Linked DNA regions of Homo sapiens: region 2 is linked to region 1. Evidence: fine-mapped expression QTL. A gene starts in region 1. The other region holds a variant in brackets. All regions are shown on one strand. Distances are from middle to middle.

Region 1 (2,910 bases):
AACCCTCCTTTGCTCCCCACCCCCGACTGGGAGGATCATGCCAGCTTTTCAGGCGGCACCAACCATGCCCCAGCAAATAAACAGGTGGGTATGGTGACAGCTGAGGCTTAGAGACCTGAGCACTCTGGCTCCGCGCCCACTCCCTAGCGGTGCCCAGTTCAGGGCTGGGGGTGGGGAAGGCAGGGGAGCTCTTGCACCCCACCAGAGCCTGGACCACCCTCCACTGCTGTGTTCTTGTTCTCAGAGACCACCCAGTCCACCTCTGAGGTTTACATGGGGGACAACTGAAGCCCAGGCCCAGGGGAAGGCAGAGGTTGAGGCCAGGGACAGAGGCATGGAGTGGGTCCCTAGTCCTGGGGCTTGTTGGTATCAGCGTGGCCAGTGCCTCTGCAGCGGTGGCAGGAGACTGGTTGGGCAGGTGGGAGGGCTGCCAGGGCTGTGTGGGGAGACACATGATGGGTTGGTGGGGGCCTGGGAGAGGCAGGGTGCTCCAGGTGTCAGGATGATTTGAGAGCCATAAACCACGATGGTGCCTCCGTGTGAGTTCAGCTTGAGGCAGAGAGGATAGGGGACTCATCCGGTGTCAGCACAGGGTCCCACCTCAGAGTCCTGCATGCTCCCTGCCCCCAGCACTGACCCCTCCAACCCTAGCAATGGGGAGGTTTTAAATGCTTGGAATAGAGGGGGCAGATCAAACCCCAGCATAACCCCACCCTTTCATTCACACCAGCCACACCTTTCCAAGGCCCCGTCCCATTACTCAGGGAGACAGATCATTGGACTTGGCTGCTTTCTGGGATTGCGGGGGGAGTGGTAGGGCCCTACCCTACCTTCAGCTGTCTCGGACATCCCGCACTCTACCAAGTTCTTGGACAGAGAGAAGGGGAGGGAGCAGAACTCTGAATCAGGATCCTTTTCCAACAAAGTACCCCGCTATACACCCCAAGTCCCCGTCGTCAGCTGGGTAGAATATTGTCCCTCTGTGGTCTCAGAATGAAGTCAGGGGAAGGTATCTGGGGACACGGAGCTCAGGGCCAGTGCCTGGGGACAAGCAACCACCAGCAGCCCCCACAGGGCGAAATCGGAGCCTGAGTAACCTCCAGGGCCGGATTCAGCCTCAGGGCAGCTCCCTTCGGGTCCTGCCCCAGTCCCCGGCAAGTCTCCGCGGAAGCTCCGCTGAACTGGGAGTGGGAAGCAGGAGAGGGGCTGGGTTGAGGTGGGTCCGAGGGGAAGTGAGGTGCGGAGGGGAAGTGAAAGGGGAGAGGACGGCAGGGAAGCTGAAGGGGTGTGAGGTCCCCCGGGAGGAGAACTGGAGAGGGCCAGACGGAGGGTTACGGGTGAAAGGGAGGGTCTGTGAGGGAGCTGGGGCTGAGGCTGTGTTAGGGGGTCTGGGAGAGTCTCAGGGTTTCTGGAAGGTGGACACAAGGTTCGGGGGTTGTCAGGTTTCTGGATGAGATTCTTAGGATTTCTGGGCTCGGGGGCTCGGGATGAGGGACAACTCGGGCTGGACAAAGGCTGTCCACGTCCCCGAGTCTGAGCGCGTCTCAGGATTTCTGGGCTCGAGATCTCGGCCCGGGCATCACGGTGGGCCGGCTCACCTGTAGACATCGGTCCAGAGGTAGGTGCCCAGCACGTACACCGCCTCCACGCGGCTCCCGTACTGCAGCCGCACGGTCCGCTCGCGCAGCATCCTCCCCGCCGCAGTGCCCGCGCTCGCTGGTCCGGGGCGGCCGGGAGCACCTGCAGCAGGTGCGCCTTCTCCAGCAGCCTGCGCCCCACGGCCCCGCGCGCAGCCTTATCCAGCGGCCGGTGGGCGGGGCGGCCCGCCCCAGTCCTCTCGCAGTGGGCTGCGGGCCTGTCCGTCAAGCGTGGTCCCGCCCCTAACTCGTCCCGCCCCGCTGAGGTCGTGGCGAAGTCATCAGGGACCAGTTTTGTGCTTTCCATGGTTGGATTGTCATTCTTTCATTCGACAAACCTTCGGTGGGCGCCCAGGTGTTGGAGGGCCCTAGCTCCCCTCCGGACGCCCCAGCCCAGTGGGGCTGAAAATGCAAATGTGGGAACACAAAGAGGGTGCCCTAACCCAGCCTGGGGGCCAGGAAGCCTTCCCAGAGAAGACGATCCTGGAACCTTCTTAAAGGAGGCGTTTGCAAATTAAAGGCGAGGAGAGGGAGCTGCCTGTGCAAAGCCGGGTGCAGCCCGGTACCCCCATCCCCCAACAGTCAGATGAACCTCACCATAGAGAAAACGGGAAGCGGTGGGGATGGGGAACCCGGCAGCTGAGGGAGACCAGGACGCCAAGCCAAGGCATTGGAGGGTGGGAGATGGGAGCCTGGAGTGGTTGTCTCCGCGAGCCGTGGTCGGGTGTGCTCGTGAAATGGGTCATTCTGGGCTGGGGAGGGGCAAGGAAGCCCCTGGCTGTGGCCAGAGCTGGAGAGGTGGGGACTGACCCGGCCACTGCTTAGGGACTGGGATTTTGGTGGCACCTGGTGACTGATAGGATGTGTGGGTGGAGGGAGAGGAGAGGGGTAAGGATTAGGGCCCCGGTTCTGGCCTGGGCCACCAAGGGAAGGGGGGTGCCACCCAGAGGTCATCGTGTGTCTCACAGAGGCTGAGATGTAGGATGACAATCAGTGTGGGCCTCGGCCAGCCCCTCCCATGTCCCAGCCCTTCCCCTGGGACCCAGTGGGAGTGCTGTTCAGACACATACATCAGCCCTGTGTGAGGAAGTGGTCTTTGGTAGGTGAGGACAGAAACTGAGGGGGGGTGGGCAGAGGCCGTGGGAGGGAAGGAGTGGGGCGGAGGGGATGTGTGTTTGGGAAGGAGTTAGAGCTGATGGAAGATGGAGCTCCAGGAACGGGTGCCCCCAGACAAGAGGGGTGAGGCCCACAAGTGCCCAGTGCTGATATACCC
Region 2 (2,910 bases), 440 kb before region 1:
AGTGGAGATGTGGTGGCCACCAGGGGCTGGAACTGTGGGGTGACTGAGAGTATCCAAAGCCCTGTGGCCAACTTACTGGTGCTGAGTGTGCTGGTGAGCCTCTCTGTCAGCTGGCTTCCCCGGGCCAGTTGCTCCCGGAAGCTCTGTCCCAGGTAGTAGTCAATGTCATTGCTCCTTAGGAGATCCTCAAAAGATTTTACTGTATCTTTTGCATGCTGGGTGAGAAGATAACAAACACCTCTCCCTTCTCGTATTTTTTGCCGTAGGTAAGACAGTTCCCGGGCCTGATCCTGAATCAGGGAATCATATTTCCTAATGCAGGACAGAAGAGGAAAGGGTGGATGATAAGTTATGGGGGCTTCTGTAGAGATTTCTATGAGAACATCTCTAAGGAACTCCCCCAAACTGAATTCTGGCACATAAGCCATAGGAGGCATTTAACAGCAAATTCTACCCTGATAAAGTATCGCACTAAAAATTTTAGTATGGGCCGGGCGTGGTGGCTCATGCCTGTAATCCCAGCACTTTGGGAGGCTGAGGCAGGCAGATCATAGGTCAAGAGTTCGTGACAAGCCTGGCCAATATGGTGAAACCCCTCCTCTACTAAAAACACACACAAAAATTAGCTGGGCATGGTGGCACATGCCTGTAATCCCAGCTACTTGGGAGGCTGAGGGAGGAGAATTGCTTGAACCTGGGAGGTAGAGGTTGCAGTGAGCCGAGATGGCACCACTGCACTCCAGCCTGGGTGACAGAGTGAGACTCTGTATCAAAACAAAACAAAACAAAAATTTACCATGCCACTGTTCTTCAACTGTTATATATATGTTAATTATATGTCCCTAGATAAATTTTTTGGGAGCTGGGCCTCCAGCTGGGATACTCTCTGGAGGAGACTCTTCAGGTCCTTTTTGGCCTGAAGTCCTGGAGAGTAGAAAGCCCCAGTGCCATCAGACAGCCACAACTCATCCTCATCAGTGACACTATGAGGTGAAGACCCCTCCAGGGTGTCAGGAGCTCTCAGCTTCCAGGGTCTTTCCAGACTAGATGAATAATCACTTGTAACCAAGAGGGACTGGACCCGGTTCTTGAGGTTTTGAATGACCTTGTTGGCATTCTGCAGCTGGGCCTTCAGATCTTTGATGTCCTTTCATAGGACCCAGATGTTTTCTGACTTTCCATATACCCAGAACTCTTCCTGCCTCCCTAGTTCATTCTCCAAGGGCTTCCTCTCAGAGGAACTAGCCAGCGTTCAGCCCCGGCGCCCCTGCTCAGAGCACAGCCCCTCCACCAGGACCATTTCCTTGCGGCTGCTGTGCTCCTCATGCTCTGAAAAAAGACAAAGATGTCTTCCTAAATAAAAGTTGGATGTGCTGTTGTGGCCACTGCCTTTGAGAGGAGGCAGGTTTGGTCATGAGGACAATAATTACTAGGGAATAAGGTGAAGTCGTACTTTATTCAACCCTGACACTGT[A/G]CTAGGCATTCAAATACAGTATTTCTTATCCTCCTTATACCCACAAGTTAGGTTTCACCACTTTCTATTTTACTGACTGGGGAAACCAAAACTTAAAGAGAGGTGGTAAACCAGCTTGTTCTAGATCACTCAAACTAGCACATGGCAGAGCCTGAATTCAAATCCTCCAACGTCCTGTGTTCATTCCACACACACTGATGTTTCTCAAGCCATTAACATGGCCTTATCTAGTTAGGATAGCCACAAGAACGCAGGACAAGCTATTTCTGCATGCTGCAAGTTTAATGCTCTCTAAAGTTTACTATAATTTAAAAGTTTATTGGGTTACCACTGTGTGAAAAATAGGCATAGGAAAATAAGACTTCGAATAAATATATCAGCATGTTAACATCAGTGTATTGGGGCAGTGGTAGTCAGAATGAGAACTAATCCACAGCATTTTACCTGATGCCAGACACTGTTCTAAAGCATTTTATAAGAATTTACTCATTTAATTCACATTAGTATCTGATGGGGTAGGTAGTTCCTTTATTACTATTTTAACATATGAAGAAACTGGGGCATAGGAAAGTTTACAAATTGGGATTTGAAGCAACAAGTCTGGCCCCAGGATCTTTTCTCTTAACTGCCACACTACACTTCCTCAAGAATGAGAGAGACTGTGTTTTTCTTCTCTTCTGGTTTTCTTTTTTTTTTTTTTTAGTTTGTAAGCAAACATTTATAGCCATGATTCCACAGATGTGGTAAGTAAACCAACAGCCATTCCTAAATAAAATACAAGAATTTCCATCATGCATAGTTTACAGGCTTGGTAAGAAGCAGTCTCTTTAGGGGCTAGATGCTTAAGAAATATTCAACAAACAATGAAATCTTGGCTTTTTTTTTTTTTTTTACACAAATGTTTGGTTATTTAGCCACATTAGTGATAAAACATATTCATATTCTAACTGCAAGTGGAATAAACATTGCAACAAAAATGCAACCCAATCAAAATCATTAGTAATAACTATTACTCCCTCTTAGCAGTAAGAACCATTATTCTTGGATTTCAAACATTTTATTTTCTGTGCATAGCTTATAGCACTGTATTATAGGAATCAGAGTGTATAAGCAAAAAAATGAAATAAAACTTCTTGAAGACCATTTCCATTATTTATGATTAAATCAATGAAACTATACAATTTCCACATTAAATACAAATTAGTAAAAGAATTCCTCCAAGTAGTATTGCATATAAGCTACAACTTTACCCCAACTATTTTAATCACTATGATTCGAGATTTCCTAGGATTTAACAGCCCAAGATTGGGCTGTTACTACCTCAGCAAGAACAATCACCAGTAAATACATGAACTGGGGTTATAGCTGAATTTTTAGAAACTCTCCAGACAAACCACGTGTTAGAGGAGGTAAGTAGAAAAACTAATGTTTGAGCT

What was found. PIP is the estimated chance that this variant, and not a neighbour inherited with it, causes the effect. A credible set is the group of variants that fine-mapping cannot tell apart.
Region 2: its variant is the best candidate, but not a certain one, in a credible set for the expression of PADI2 in whole blood (INTERVAL, PIP 0.64).

The regions. Positions count from the first base shown.
Region 1 is chr1:17,117,682-17,120,591 of GRCh38, forward strand. It overlaps PADI2 (peptidyl arginine deiminase 2), which reads right to left and starts at 1,770. Exons shown (of 16, transcript NM_007365.3): 1 at 1,599-1,770. The coding sequence starts at 1,690. RefSeq lists a silencer at 1,580-1,789 and an enhancer at 2,361-2,895.
Region 2 is chr1:16,680,916-16,683,825 of GRCh38, forward strand. It overlaps the pseudogene EIF1AXP1. Among named protein-coding and RNA genes, the nearest start is that of TRG-CCC4-1, 4.0 kb to the left of the region's middle. The variant A/G (reference allele first, on the strand shown) is at 1,475.